Linked DNA regions of Homo sapiens: region 1 is linked to region 2. A link means that fine-mapping ties the variant in region 2 to the expression of a gene that starts in the linked region. Tissue or cell type: prefrontal cortex. Region 2 holds a variant in brackets; the other region holds the start of a gene. All regions are shown on one strand. Distances are between the middles of the regions.

Evidence for each region. PIP is the estimated chance that this variant, and not a neighbour inherited with it, causes the effect.
Region 1: it holds the start of SMKR1, and the variant in region 2 is fine-mapped to the expression of SMKR1 in prefrontal cortex (GTEx, PIP above 0.99).

The regions. Positions count from the first base shown.
Region 1 is chr7:129,498,470-129,506,573 of GRCh38, forward strand. SMKR1 (small lysine rich protein 1) reads left to right here and starts at 4,062. Exons shown (of 2, transcript NM_001195243.2): 1 at 4,062-4,358. The coding sequence starts at 4,356. RefSeq lists silencers at 3,761-3,810, 3,871-4,210.
Region 2 is chr7:129,165,988-129,174,091 of GRCh38, forward strand. TSPAN33 (tetraspanin 33) reads left to right here. Exons shown (of 8, transcript NM_178562.5): 6 at 791-919; 7 at 1,412-1,573; 8 at 1,786-3,712. The coding sequence ends at 1,887. Among named protein-coding and RNA genes, the nearest start is that of SMO, 19 kb to the right of the region's middle. RefSeq lists a silencer at 3,200-3,419 and enhancers at 3,790-3,839, 3,909-4,778. The variant C/T (reference allele first, on the strand shown) is at 3,211.

The DNA.
Region 1 (8,104 bases), 330 kb after region 2:
AAAAAATTGAAAAAAAAGAAAAGAAAAGAAAAGAAAAGAAAGTCAGCTGGGCGCAGTGGCTCATGCCTGTAATCCTAGCACTTTGGGAGGCCAAGGCAGGCGGATCACCTGAGGTCAGGAGTTCAAGACCAGCCTGGCCAACAATGGTGAAACCCTGTCTGTACTAAAAATACAAAAATTAACCAGGTGTGGTAGCACACGCCTGTAATCCCAGCTACTCTGGAGTCTGAGGCAGGAGAATTGCTTGAACCCGGGGGGCAGCAGCTGCAGTGAGCTGAGATTGTGCCACTTCACTCCAGTCTGGGTGAAAGAGCAAAACTCCATCTCAAAAAAAGAAAAAAAAAAACAACAAGTCAGGAGGCAGCCTCAAGTAGGTGCAGATGAGAGTGTTCTAGATACAAGGAGAGAGAGAGGGATCAAAGGTGACAAGTTCCTAGCGTGGGTACCTAGATGGCTGCTGAGGCCATCATCCAAAACAGAAGGAGATACACATTGGCTAAGAGAAGTGTTTGATTTTATTGATTTAGAGGCAGGGTCTTGCTCTGTCGCCCAGGCTGGAATGCAGTGGTGCAATCACTGTTCACTGCAATCTTGACTCCCTGGGCTCAAGCGATCTTCCCGCCTCAGCCTCCCAAGTAGCCAGAACCACAAATGCGTGCCACCATGCCCGGTAAATTTTGTATTTTTTTTTTTTTTTTTTTGCATAGATGGGGTTTCACCATGTTGCCCAGGCTGGTCTTGAACTCCTGAGTTCAAGCGATCCACCTGCCTCAGCCTCCCAAAGTGCTAGTATTGCAGGTGTGAGCCACCGCGCCCAGCCATGTTTGATTTTAGATGCGGTAGGGTAAGGTTCCTGAGTTGAAGTTTCAAAATCAACTTTATCAAGCTATAATTCATATATTGTAAACTGCACTCATTTGAAGTATATAATTTAATTAATTCTGACAAATGTATATACCTGTGCAGGGCCAGGTTCATGGGCTGTTTGACCCCCCAGTGGTCACACAGAGTCCTACTCCTTTTTTTTTTTTTTTTTTTTTTTTTTTTGAGAAGGAGTCTTGCTCTGTCACCTAGGCTGGAGTGCAGTGGTACAATCTCGGCTCACTGCAACCTCTGCCTCCCGGGTTCAAGCAATTCTTCTGCCTCAGCATCCTAGTAGCTGGGATTACAGGTGCCCACCACCATGCCTGGCTAATTTTTGTATTTTTTAGTAGAGATGGGGTTTCACCGTGTTGGTCAGGCTGGTCTTGAACTCCTGACCGCAGGTAATCCACCCGCCTTGGCCTCTCAAAGTGCTGGGATCACAGACATGAGTCACCGCGCCTGGCCGAGTCCTACTCTTAGAAGGGCCATAGGCTCGGGGTTTAGTGCTCTGAGTTTCACAGTGTGAAAATTTCTTAGTAATTTTACCTTTGAATTTTTGTTTTGTCAATGAAATCTGACGGGAAAATGGAGGCTGCTGGGGGAAGGGGGTTGGTGCCTTAGCTGCTGCTGAGTCTCACCTCTTGTCACCCCCCACTACCCCCAATCCCCACCTTCACCCTACCCAACCCCCAACCCCATCTAGGGCAGGGCATGGCAATACCCCCGTACATTCAGAGTGAGACACGCGAGCATCCTGTCCACCACAGTCATGACACCAAGCACATCCTGGCACAGAGGGTGCAATCCCTCGAGGGCCACCCATCTGCTATGGGACGATAGCTAGGAAGGGGAGTGTTCCCGTACCCAAGGAAACACATTAAACAGTAAACAAAAACAGCATAACAGGTTGATAGAGACCACAGAGAAAAGGAAAGCTTTCTAATTTAGTACCTTTAGTGGCACTTTTCCCTGCTTCTTCCTGTTTTCATTTTGCACTAAGCCATGCAAATAATGCAGCCAGCCCTGCACCTGTGTAGCTACTGCCACAATCAGGATAGAGAGTATTTCCATCACTCAGGAATTTTCCTCTTAGCCCACCGCAGAGTCAATCCTCCCCCACCCATGGCACACCTCGACCACTGATCTACTTTCAAGACAGCTGAGTTTTAAAACTTGTAGCAGGAGGCCAGAGCAGTGGCTCACGCCTGTAATCCCAGTGGGAGGCCGAGGCAGGCGGATCACCTGAGGTCAGGAGTTCAAGACCAGCCTGGCCCCTGTCTCTACTAAAAATACAAAAATTAGCCGGGCGTGATAGCGCATGCTTTGTAATCCCAGCTACTTGGGAGGCTGAGGCAGGAGAATTGCTTGAACCCAAGGGGCAGAGGTTGCAGTGAGCAGTGATCGTGCCATTGCACTCCAGCCTGGGCAACAGAGCAAGACTCCATCTCAAAAAAAAAAAAAAAAGAAAAGAAAAGAAAAAGAAAAGAAAAGAAAAGAAAGAAAACAAAACAACCTTGTAGCAGGGCTCTGGATCTCTGATCTGGAGCTCAGGAAAAGCAGGGCTGGAACAGATTTGGGAGTGATCCCATAGGGGTAACCTTGGGAGAGCTGAGATAACCCAGAGAAGTGTAAGCGGCTGGGGTGGGCCAGCCCCATCCAGGGATGAAGACAGGCGCAAGAAGAGAAGAAAGTGCAGGTGGAGGGCAGGAGAATTTGCCATATCCAGGGCATATGGACTCATAAGAAAAACTCACAGACATATTAAAAGTAGCTGGAAGTTGGGTTTGCTCTGTTAATGAAGGATTAGGGAAAGCATATGTAAGAGAACCTAGAACATAAACAGTCCTCTTTGGAAGCCAGTTTGTCTTTCAAGAGAAAGCAAACAAAACACCACATCCTTGCAGAGCCTTCCAGGACCCTACTCCTGCTTCTTGGTCTAGCCTCCTCCCCCTGTCCCTAATTTTGGCATAATTGACTGCTCCTTGTCATCCAGATCTGTTTTAACGTCACCTCCTCAGAGAGGCCTTCCCCAGTCACCAATCTAAAAGAGCACCCAGTGGTCACATCAATTTAATGCAATATGCCATACTGTCCCTATCACTTTTAATGTCTGCCAGGCCCTCCATTTCAGCCACGACCACCTCCCCCAAATCACCCCTTAAAAGAACAAGGACTTTGCCTCATTCAGAGCTCAATTTCCAGGGCCTGGAAGAGTGTCAGGCACGTGGCAGATGCTCAATAACTGTTGAATAAAAAGGAATGATAGGCCGGGCAGTGGCTCACGTCTGTAATCCCAGCACTTTGGGAGGCTGAGGCGGGCAGATCACCTGAGGTCAGAAGTTCGAGACCAGCGTGACCAACATGGCGAAACCCCATCTCTACTAAAAATACAAAAATTAGCCGGGCATAGTGGTACGCATCTGTAATCCCAGCTACTCAAGAGGCTGAGGCAGGAGAATGGTTTAAACTTGGGAGGCGGAGGTTGCAGTGAACCGAGATGGCGCCACTGCACTCCAACCTGGGCGACAGAGAGAGACTCGGTCTCAAAAAAAAAAAAAAGGAATGACCAGTCATAAAAAAGAATGAGTCGTACCACCCGAAGTGTAGACTTCACCTGCAGGGAGGGAGGCTGGAACTGGCAAGGTTGGAGGCAAAACTGTACCTACTGTACCTTTCTCGCCCAATCCTACCTGCACATGAACTCCCTCCCCACCCCTTTAGTCTCTCGGGCCCTTACTCTCTTTATCCGGCTCTTTTGCAAACATTTCCCATGATATTCTCCCTTCACCGTCACAGTCCTTATGCTCGTTTCCCAAAAGAGCTTCTCCGATGATCTCTCCCAGGTTGGCCGAGTGAGCGGGCCTAGCCTGCGCTCTCACCCCAGTGCCACCCCAGTGGGAGCGCCGCCCGCGCCCGCCCCCTCGCCCCGCGCCCGCCCCCTCGCCCCGCGCCCGCCCCCTCGCCCCGCGCCCGCCGCTCCGGCAGCCCAAACCCAGACGCTAAAGCGCCGAACTGGGTTTCCGGGCGCTGGAGGCCGCGGTCGGCCTCGTACTAGGTGACGGCCCATCCCGCGCGCGCAAGCCCGGAACCCCGCTCCGCTCACCCTCCGCGCGCTGCCGCTTTGCCCTGGCAACGGTAACCACGGCGAGGCCCTGCCCCACGCCCGGTGATTGTGCGCGCGGCCCCGCCCCCGAGGCGCACGCCGGCCCAGCGCCCACAGCTGCGGCGGCCTAGGTGCCGCGTGGGGCAAGCAGGTGCCTCGCGTCCAGGCGGCTCCGCGGCTGGCTGCCTCCCGAGCCGGCCGCGCTCCTCCCAGCGAGGCGTGGCGGGGAGGCGTAGTGAGGCTGGGCCCGTGGCGGTTCCCTGAGGAGGGCCGAGAAGGGGCCGGGGGTGCTAGGGGAACGGGCGCTGGGGGCAGCGGCCCCGGTGGATGCTAAGGGCTTCGGGATCGGGAGAGTCCACCACGCCTGCCTGCTCGGCTGAGAATCGCCATGGTAATCCCCGTCTCCCTAAAGTACCCGGGGCCAGGGCGCGCGCCGTGGAGCCCCAGGCTGTCCCGGAGAGGCGCGGGCGCCGAGGTCACCGCCTCTCCCTGGGGTCGACCTCAACGCGTGGCGAAAAGATGGAGGGACAAGGGGTGCCCGGCGGTCCGCGCCTGCTGGGGGCGCAGCAGCCGCGGAGTCAGGCCAGCCGTCTTTCCAGGTTTTAGGTCGTGGTCCTGTTGAGCAGCCCCCACACCCAGACGGTTGATGTGGAAAATAAAGGGAGGGTGGCACCGTGGTGTGGCACGTCAGGGCGCCAGGCCATGCCCACAGTGACGGGTCCGAGCTGTTAGCTGCCGTAGCCACCCTGGGTGCCCGCGCGGGATTCTCCACTGCTCTGCAGACTCAGGAAGCAGAGAGTGAGCCTGGTACCACCACCTTGCTGTCAACAGCATTCCTGTTCTCAGCCCTCATCCAGTCACTTACGACCTCCTTCCAACCCTCGCTGCTCTTTCCAGAAGGGCTGTGACCTTCCAGCCCCTGCCCCAAGTCCTCAGGGAGGCATCATTGTCTGCTAAACTAAGTACTGCACGCTTGAGCTGGGCGCACAGAGCCCTTGCTAAAGGGGCCTCAACCTCGAGCTTTCTCTGCCATATCTTCTCTGCTAAACAACAACAAACAAAACGAACAAAAACCCTGCATCCCACACTAAACCCGCGTTCTTCTGGAAGCCCCTTGCGCCTTCCCTGTCTTGATCCGTTTTCTTTGAGGCTTGGATCAGAAGGACCCTGCCTCCTGCTTCCCCATCGCTCCTTCAGCGCCCACAGCCCTTTGCACCTCACCTCTGGTGCTTTGCCTGTTTTTCCTTGGAAAGCCTTATTCCTCATTAGACTCTAGTGTAGAAATCATTAAGTTTCTGTGTTCTTTCCAGTTTGTTTCGTGTAAAAGGATTAAGTAAAAATTTCTTGGTTTGAGAGTCATTCCATGAGCTATTAAAGGTAAAGAGCTATTACCTTTTTTTTTTTTTTTTTTGACAGGGTCTTACTTTGTCACACAGGCTGGAGTACAGTGGTGTGATCACAGCTGACTGCAGCCTCCATCTCTGAGGCTCAAGTGATCCTCCCGCCTCAGCCTCCCAAGTAGCTCGGACCGTAGGCAGGCATCACCATGCCTGGCTAATCTCTGTATTTTTAGTAGAGACAGGGTTTCGCCATGTTGCCCAGGCTGGTCTCAAACGCCTGGGCTCAAGGGATCCGCCCGCCTTGGCCTCTCAAATTGCTGGGATTACAGGTGTGAGCCACTGTGCCCAGCCAACTGCCATTTCTTTCAGGGCCCAGGGAACTGAGGCAGAATGCTGTACATAGCCATTGAAGCAAATGCCAGTTAATTCATGCTCCTTGAATGAGGGTCAAACACATTAGTGCACAGAGCCTGCAAGCCAGAGCGGAACCTTGCCTACCTTTCCTTCCTTAGCTGCTCTCACTGGCCCCCTTGGCTGCCTGTGGGCTGGCCATGTTGGCCTTTTTTGGGTTTCCGTCTCTTTGTGCACCTTCTCTCCGGCTTCAGAGACTTTGCATAGGCTGTTGGTCTTGGAATTCCCTACTCTCGGCCCACAGGCCACGCTTAGGGAGCCCTTCCTTTGATGGCCCAGATGAGGTCAGCCCTTGCCCATCTTGTGCTATTATAATTCCATGTGTTATAGGCATTATAGGGTCTTTCTTTATTAATTTCTTTGTTTTTGTTTTTTTTTTTTTAGAGATAGGGTTTTGCTTTGTTGCCCAGGCTGGAGTGCGATGGCATCATACATAGCTCACTTTGGCCTTGAATTCCTGGGCTCAAGGGGTCCTCCCACCTCAGCAGCCTGAGTACTGGGGACTACAGGTGTGTGCCACTGAGCCCAGCTAATTTTTTAAATTTTTGTAGAGACCGGATTTTGCCATCTTTCCCAGACTGGTCTCAAACTGGGTGCAAGTGATCCACCTGCCTCGGCCTCCCAGAGTGCCGGGATTACAGGTGTGAACCACCATGCCTGGCCAATAGGGCCCTTTCTTCACAGCATGGGTCGTGAGTAAATGCATTTGTGATTAGGTGACTAGTGTCTTCCTCAGACCTCACTGGACTGTAAGCATCGTGAGATCTCCTTTGCTCCCCATCTAATACAGGGCCTGGGACACAGTAGATTTTTGTTAAATACTTGTTGAATGAATGAAGGAGGCATCTTAAAATTCAGAAAAGCAGAAATCCACATTTGCTTTCTAAATCCTGTTATTGCATTGCATCTCAGTTGTGATGTATTCATTCACTCAGCAGATATTTATGCATCCTTGCAGTGTGGCAGATATTGGTGTAGGCTGGGGAATTCAGTGGTAAATTTATAGACAGAATCTCTGGTGAGGGAAACAAACAATAAACATAAACAACAATTACTATTAACTAGTGAAAAGTGGTGCGGGGAAGGAGATGGACAGTGACTCTACTGGGGTTGCTGGGAGACTGTTAAAGACAGACCACTGTACTTCCCCCTGTCCCTAGCCTGGGACAGTCTCAGTTTATGTTTGTTTATATTTGTTGAAGTATCTTGATTTGGGCAATAAATTATATGGTCACTCCAGTTACAGACAGAATATAGACATGGTGTCAGGGAGGTCTTTCTTTTTCTCTTTTTCTCTTTTTTTTTTTTGAGACAGAGTTTCACTCTTGTCGCCCAGGCTGGAGTGCAATGGCGCGATCTCGGTTCACTGCAACCTCCGCCTCCCCGGTTCAAGCAATTCTCCTGCCTCAGCCTCCTGAGTAGCTGGGATTACAGGCACCCGCCACCGTGCCTGGCTAATTTTTTTTGTATTTTTAGTAGAGATGGGGTTTTACCATGTTGTCCAGGCTGGTCTTGAACTCCTGACCTCAGATGATCCACCGGCCTCGGCCTCCCAAAGTGCTGAGCCACTGTGAGCCACCATGCCCAGCCTGTCAAGGAGGTTTTTCTAAAGAGGTGATATTTGAGCAGAGGCTAGCGTAAAGAGAAGCAACGAATTCTGCCCCTTCAATTAGAAGGTCTGCAGGAAGAGCAAGCATTGCCCAGGGAGAAGCTCGGAGTGTTGGGAACTAGAAGAAAGTCCAGTGTGGCTGGAGTCAAGTGGTTTTCCTTAAGGAGTTTGGAGGGTTTTAAGTTGGGAGCTGCATGTTCTGAGACCAGGAAAAGCCAAGAGCCACAAAGTTGTATTGAACCAATCCAAGGAATGGATGGGCCCAGAAACAAAACCTTTATTATTCCCATGTAATAATTTCTTAACAGATTTATTGAGGTGGAATGTATATACAATAAATTTTACATGTTTAAAATGCATGCTTTAGGCATGGTAGCTCATGCCTGTAAACCCAGAATTTTGGGAGGCTGAGGCGAGAGGATAGCTTGAGCTCAGGAGTTCGAGACCTGCTTGGGCACCATAATGAGACCCTCATCTCTATAAAAAGTAGAAAAAATTAGTTGGACATGGTGGTGCAAATCTGTAGTCCCAGTTACTCAGGAGGCTGAGGTGGGAGGATCGCTTGAGTCTGGGAGATCGAGACTGCAGTGAGCCATGATCGTGCCACTGTACTCCAGCCTGGGCAACAGAGTGAGACCTGTTTCAAAAAATAAATAAAAAATAAAATGCACACTTTGATAGGTTTGGCAAATGTGTGCATTCATTAAGCCATCACCACAATCAAGATTGTAAATACAGCCATCACCCATTTTTTTGTAATCCACCTTTCTCTCTTGC
Region 2 (8,104 bases):
GTACAATGGCGTGATCTTGGCCCACTGCAACATCCGCCTCCTGGGTTCAAGTGAATCTGCCTGCCTCAGCCTCCTGAGTAGCTGGGATTACAGGTGCCTGCCAAACCACGCCCAGCTAATTCTTGTATTTTTAGTAAAGATGGGGTTTTGCAATATTGGCCAGGCTGGTCTTGAACTCCTGACCTCAGGTGATCTGCCCTCCTCGGCCTCCCAAAGTGCTGGGATTACCGGTGTGAGCCACAGCACCTGGCCAAAAAAGTTAACTTTTAAGTAAAAGTGCTTCTGAGACAAGTCCTGAGTTCCCCTTCCTCTGGTGCAATAGACACTTGACTTTGAGATCCAGTTGGCTCTCATGGAGTAATGATTGACTCACAATATTGAAGATTCCTCCCCTGTGTTTTCTCTATCTTAAGGAGAAGTTTTTCAGCACTGATACTGTAATTATTTCAGCCAATACTTTTGATCACTTCCATTTGCCTGCAAAGCCAGAAACTTCTCTCAAGAAGATTATAGCTGAGTATGTAAAACAAAATATATGTACAACTGTAATACCAACAAGCACAGTGGTAAGTTATAACAAGATATACGAAGTAATAGAAATTAAGAAGTGAGAATATCTTCAGGCGAAGGCAACTGGGAAGCTGGAGCTCAAAGTTTAAGGCTGTGTTAAAACACAACCTAAAGTTCCCAGTAGAAGCTTGCTATAGACTTTTGGTGGCTCTGAGAATTCCCCTGGTCACCTCAGTGTGAGGGGTGGGTGATTCTTAACCTCTGGTGGGTTTTGTTGCAGTTTAGCTGCTGTGGAGGGATTTCCTACAAGGACTGGTCTCAGAACATGTATTTCAACTGCTCAGAAGACAACCCCAGTCGAGAGCGCTGCTCTGTGCCTTACTCCTGTTGCTTGCCTACTCCTGACCAGGTGAGCCAGCATCCTGCCTCATTTCCTCCTAGGCAGCGAGCTGAGTCACTTTCTGATGGGGGCAGCTGCTACTGGGGATCCCCATCCCCTAGCTTCACCGATCAGTCATGTGGGACAGCTGTCAGGTGTTTTTCTTCACCCCAACCTGATGCTTCTATTAACCTCATACTCATGTAGTCCACATGGAGTTCAGAAGGGACAGATTTAAGTTTTAAGTTCAGATTCAGTACCTGTGCAGGTTTGTTATATAAGTAAACTTGTGTCTTAGGGGTTTGTTGTACAGATTATTCCACCACCCAGAGCAAAGAGACCTGGATCCTGACCTCTCAGAGGAAGGGAAGTCTGCATTTGGCAACTTCCAACCCAATATCCTCCACATATATTCTCTGACAATTTAGGAGTTTGGGAAGGGTGGGAAGCCCATCAGCTAAGGCCCCAAACAAAAAGTTATTGGAATTACAGTCCCAATTGGCTTTTCAACTCTTTCCCCAGGCAGTGATCAACACTATGTGTGGCCAAGGTATGCAGGCCTTTGACTACTTGGAAGCTAGCAAAGTCATCTACACCAATGGCTGTATTGACAAGTTGGTCAACTGGATACACAGCAACCTATTCTTACTTGGTGGTGTGGCTCTAGGCCTGGCCATCCCCCAGGTAACTTACCCTGTGAGACTTGTTGGTCCCACACACTCTGTAAAGACTCCTTTGTTTTGGGGAAGGCACCTGGGGATCAGCGAGGGTGTCAGGCACTGACATGGCTGAGGGGTAGGGAAAGGGATAGTGCTGGCCGCACTGGGAAGATCGAGCCAGGGAAAACAAGGCCATCACTCACTGCTGAGTGCCCAATTCCTTCTTGCCTCTCCCAGCTGGTGGGAATTCTGCTGTCCCAGATCCTAGTGAATCAGATCAAAGATCAGATCAAGCTACAGCTCTACAACCAGCAGCACCGGGCTGACCCATGGTACTGAGAATCCATCCTGCACCTCCTCACCATGGAAACTGGCAAGCCTCATAAACGAACAGCAGTGGGTGCTGAAAGCAGCACCAAATGGAGATTTGGATTCCAGCCCCCCAGTGACAGCCCAGTGGGAAGAAGCAAACTCCAGATGGGCAGAAGGCAGGGTGCACAGGTGGCTCCAGTCTCAGGAGGATGCGCCTCCTCTCCCCCATCCCAGCCCTCAGCATTGTGCCAGAGTGATACCCTTAAGTGTTTGGGTTTATGTTTTCAGTTTTGTTTGGGAAACAGCAGTTGCACAGAGAGTTGGGGGTACTGCTGCTGCCTTTTCACCGAGGCACTGCCACCACCAGCTCTAGCAGGGATGCTCCTGAGCTTGGCGGACATACTTAGATCCTAACGTGCCAGTGAGACCTGGCTGTGGAGAGTAGCACTGGCAGCCCTGCCTGGACTCCACTTGGCATGATACCAGCTCCAGAAGGGAAGGGAGTGGAGCAGGCAGTGAGGAGAGAGCCTGGGGGTCGGCTGGGGACAGCCGTATGTGCTAGGTAGGAGTGGAGGGAGATATGTTTACCAAATGCCTGTCCTGCCATCCTCCCAGGTAGTCAGAGTGAGCTACATCCTGCCCCGCCTTCATTTCCATGGAAACATGGCAGCTAGGACACGGGGTACAACAGCAGCCAAATTCTTCCCCACCTCCCTTACTTCGAAAAAAAGTTTGGAACCCTGGTCCCTATACTCTGCAGTCAGAAGTGGGACTGAGCCATACATGCCCTTGAATTCCTCCCTGTCTGGCCCTCCCTCTCCAGCAAGCAGGGTTTTCTTTAACTTGGCAGTGTGCAGAGGAGAAGTGGTAACACCCCCACCCCATTCCCCTGCATCGGAGCTCAGTATTCCTACAGGGTAAGAGGTAGGAATCTTGCTGGGACGAGGGGAGCCAGAAGTGGCAATAAAAGCGTGTTGACCTGGGCTACGCGGGACTCCATGAATTTTCCATTCTGGCAACTGGAAGGGGAGGTGTAGAAGGGCCCTGCAGAGGACGGCACTGGAGACTCTCCTAAACGCCACACACCTCCCCCTTGCTGCCCGCCACACGCGCGTCTCCTTCAACCGATGCATTGCCACCCTCCCACAGCCTCGCCCTCTGCTCTAAATTAGGTCGAAAGAGTCCCAGTTCCAATCTAGGAACAGCATAATTTTGTTCCAAAACCTGATCTGTGTTTTTCTAATTAAAATTAATTTGTCACCCAAAACAGGAGGGGGATGGGGAGGAGGGACATGAGCACTCCGCTGGGGCCGGGACGGGGAATGAGGAGGAAGAAGGCCCTCTCTTCCC[C/T]TACCCGGGCCCTCCAGGACCTTCTCCCTGAGTCGGCTGTAGGGAGGACTCCGAGGAAGCTCGGCGCGGTGCGCTGGGCCTCCTGGCGCCGGGAGGAGCGCGCGAGGCAGGCGGGGCGGGCGCGTCCGGGGCGGGGCGCTGGACTTCGTGGGTGGTCCCCGCCCCCGCGGCGGCCTAGGCCCGCGCCTGCGTCCCCCAACCCGGAGGAGATGGGGGGCTGTGCTAGCTGCTTGCCCAGCGAGTGTTCCCGGAGTCTCCTCGCCGCACCCCGCTATCGGGCGCTCAGACCAGGGGCTCGGCCTGGCGGGAAATAGCCTCGACCGAACTGCTGCGGGGACAAAGAGCCGCGAGTTCGCTCCCTGCCCCCAGTGTCTCCTAAGCGAGCCTTCTGCTCCTAGGAAGGCGCCTTTCCAGCAGCCGCTGGGACCCTGGCCAGTGTTTAGCTCCCAACTAGTAACAGACGGAAAGAAAAAATAAAATTATCCAGAATCTAGAATAAAAAGTAAGGGCCTTTTATTCTGGGAGAGGACAGTTAAAAAGCGCGCTTTCTTGCTAACTTGCCTTTCTTGGTTAGTGCCAGAGACGTGCACTTTATAAACTTATTTAAGTGACACGGACCCAGAAGTCGATGTCTTGGGTTAGAGGTTGGAGTGATGCGCCCTCTGGGTTCAGCGGCTTTGAGGAGCTCACCCTGCAGCGGGCTCCGTTTGGGGCCCCTTGGAGGAAGTAAGACCAGGAACCGTGATCCTCAGAATGATTATTCAAATCTGGATTTTCAAAACTAAGAACTACACTTTCACCATCGCCTCTACTGTCTCTCAGTATCTAGCCTCCTGGGTCTGGACTAAAAGGCTGGGAACTTCTGCCCATGCCCCAGACTTTATAACGCACAGAGCAAATGTTCAGTATAGTGCAGTTCAGGGTTCCTAGCTAGATTGCAAATTGCCAATGTCTCTGATTCTCAGTCTGTAGCTTTCTTTCTCTTCGGCCTGATGCTGGGGAAGAAAATACGCGAAGTTTTATATTTCATGTTTGCTCCTTGAATTTCTACCTATTTCTAGTAACCCTCCTCCCAAACACACACTGTTACCAGACACACACTGTTACCGGGAGTCCTTCCCAAGAGAGGGTTCTTGGATCTGACACAAGAAAGAATTCAGGGCAAGTCCATAAAGTGAAAGCAAGTTTATTAGAAAAGTAAAGGAATAAAGAATGGCTACTCCATAGACAGAGCAGCCCCAAGGGCTGCTGGTTGCCCATTGTTAGGGTTATTTCTTGATGATATGCTAAACAAGGGGTGGATTATTCATGCCTCACCTTTTTAGACCATGTAAGGTAACTTCCTGACGTTGCCATGGCATTTGTAAACTGTCGTGGTGCTGATGGGAGCGTAGCAGTGAGGACGACCAGAGGTCACTCTCGTCAACATTTTGGTTGTGGTGGGTTTTGGCCGGCTTCTTTACCGCAATCTGTTTTATCAGCAAGGTATTTCTGACCTGTATCTTGTGCCGACCTCCTATCTCATCCTGTGACTTAGAATGCCTTAATCTGCTGGGAATGCAGCCCAGTAGGTCTCAGCCTTATTTTACCCAGCGCCTATTGAAGATGGAGTTGCTCTGGTTCAAATGCTTCTGACACCACTACTTTAGAATAGCTAATCAAATGTAGGCCGCAAAGGTGGTTGAATGAAAGGAGATTCTTGGGGACAGCAGAAATCAGGCTTGGTACACAGAGGTGGAGAGAAAGGCCTGAAGGATGGTGAAAACCTGCCAGGGTGGCATGCCAAGAAAGGCACCACTAAGTTCTGCGGGCCTTAAGCCCTGCAGTTAAACAAAGACTTGTGCCCAGAAGAGCAAATTTTGCAGAATGTTCAGTGAAATTCTGATTTCCTCCTATCAGGTTTTTATTGCTACTGTTACAAATTACCAGACATTTAGTAGTTTAAAGCAACACAAATTTATCTTACATTCTGGAAGTAAGAAGTCCAAAATGGGTCTCACTGAGCTAAGATCAAGGTGTGAGCAGGGCTGTATTCCTTCTTGGGGGCTTCAGGGGAGAATCCATCTTTCCTGCTCCCAGAGGCCGCGTGCATACCTTTGGGTGGTCCCTTTCTCCAACTTCTGTCATCACATCTCCTTTTTCTCTGACTCTCCTACTGCCCCCTGACAGGACCCCTGTGATTGTATTGGCCCATCTAGATTATCCAGGATGCCCTTCCCCCATGAAGATCATGAATCTCGCCACGTCTACAAAGTCCCTTTTAGTATGTAAGGAAAGAGATGCATCGGTTCTAGGGATTAGGGCATGGACATTTTTGGGGTGGCATGATTTAGCTCATTACATCCCCCTTTCCAGCCTCATGAATGCCTTCAGGTGCGGGGCATTTGGGAATGAGCTGATGTTGGATGCTGGCAAGAGTTTGAGGTAGGTGTTCTCTGGTCTTCTTTCTGATAATTATGTAACGTCTATCAAGTGCTTATGATGCACCAGGCACATATTTATTATGAAGTTCAATACGCAGCCTTGGCTATTTTCTGACTTATCCTCATCCTGAAGACCAGATATGTTAACAGGGCCAGAGACCAGGTTCAAAAAGGAGAGCAGGCCAGGTGCAGTGGCTCATACCTGTAATCCCGGCACTTTGGGAGGCCAAGGCAGGAGGATCACCTGAGGTCAGGAGTTTGAGACCAGCCTGGGCAACAGAGGGAGACCCTGTCTGTACAAAACATAAAAATTAGCCAGGCATGGTGACATGTTGGCCTCTACTGTCTCTTGCTATCTAGCCTCCTGGGTCAGTCCCAGCTACTTTGGAAGCTAAGGTGGGGAGGATCACTTGAGCCTGGGGGTGTGTAGGGGTGGGGGTGGGAGGCAGGGAGGTGGGTGTCGAGGCTGCAGAGACCTGTGATCACCCCACTGCACTCCAGTGAGCAACAGAGAAGACTCTTTCTCTCTCTCTCTCTCTCTCTCACACACACACACACACACACACACACACACACACAAAGCAAGCAGCACAGCTTCTTCCATCAGCAGTTCTTCTGTTCTGTTTTGTAAACACCCCCACCCCACCCCCAAAAATAAGAGCAATTAGATATTTCAAATCATCATAGGTAAAGCACTTAGGGGAGGGAATAAAGTAAGGGATAACCACGGTCTAGAACTCCAGTTGGAAATTAAGCCTCCAGAGTCTTCTCATTACCATATCGGGAATGTGGAAAATCAATCAAATGAATGGAAATAGCAAAGGGATTCCAGAAATATTTTGGACATCGGTGCTCACTATATAATAAACAAGAAGCAATGCAATGTTGAGAGGAAGCTGTAATCATAATTACTAATAAATGCTATTAGGCGAATTATTACAGTGTGGAAAATAAGTAACAGATTCCTACCTCACACTGTGCACTGCAAAGCATTCCAGAAGGGTAAAAGAGCTAAGATTTTAAAGTAAAACAAACAAGAAAACCAGAATATCATACTGTCCTAGCTCTAGGAAGCTACAGTAGACAGCTTTTCAGTGTATCTTCCCAACTTGCAATGATTCCTTCTTCTTTGGAAACTGGCATCCACCCCTCAAGCCATAGGGGTGAGTCTTGAGGAGCCATATTTATCCTCTAAGGCCTGGTCCCCTAGGCATAGCTGATTGGATCCAGCTCAGGCACTCTATTCGTTTCCTAGGGCTCCCATCACAAAGTACCACAAAAATAGATCGCTTAAAACAACAGATAATTATTGTTTCACAGTTTTGGAGGCCGGAAGTCTGAAATCAAGGTGTTGACCAGGCCATGCTCCCCGGAAGCCTCCAGGGGAGGATCCTTCCTTGTCCTTTCCAGCTTCTGGTAGCTGGGTATTCCTTGGCTTGCGGCAGTATAAATGCAGACTCTGCCTCCCTCTTCATCTTCCCTCTGTGTCTGTGTCCCAATTTTCCTCTTCTCATAAGGATGCCAGTCACATTGGATCAAGGCCCACTGTACTCCAGTATCCTCATCTTTTTTTTTTTTTTTTTTTTTTGAGACAAAGTCTTGCTCTGTCACCCAGGCTGGAGTGTAGTGTCACGATCTTGGCTCACTGCAACCTCCACCTCCTGGGTTCAAGTGATTCTCCTGCCTCAGTCTCCCTAGTAGCTGGGATTACAGGCACGCACTTCCACGCCCTGCTAATTTTTGTATTTTTAGTAGAGTCAGGGTTTCACCATGTTGGTCAGGATGGTCTTGAACTTCTGACCTCAGGTGATCTGACCATCTCAGCCTCCCAAAATGCTGGGATTACAAGCGTGAGCCACCACGCGCCTGGCCTCCAGTATCATCATCTTAATTAATTACTTCTGCAATGACCCTATCTCCAAATAAGGTCCCAATCTGAGGTGCAGGGGTCTAGGGCTTCAACATATCTTTTTTAAGAAGTCAAAATTCAACCCACAACAGGCACCTAACCCAAACAGTAACAAACAGAGTTATTTCCCTGGGACTTGGGAATTGAGAATGAGGTTCTAGTCACAGCCTGGGCTGGTCTCATGAAGAAAGAGAAGGCAAAGGGAGGCTGAGGTACCAGCCCTCTTATGCTCCAGGGACTGATTATGGAGAAAGTCTATTCCCAGAAACAAGAGAAGGAAGGAGTGGAGTGCGGTGAGGAGGAAGAAGAGGAGTCCTCCTAGAAGCGCCTTTCCTCTATAATCCCAGAACCTTTCTGCAGCGGCACTGCTTTCCAGCCGTGGCTTCCCTATCTGCTTACAGTAAAGCCTGTTTTGTTTGCTTAGGGAAGCTCAACTAGTTTCTCTTGCTCGCAAGCAGAGTTAATAGAAAAACTAGAATCAGAGTAAGATGCTGTATTAGTACTCTTTTGCTGCTGTAACAACTTTCCACAAACTCAGCGCTCAAAACAACACAAATTTGGC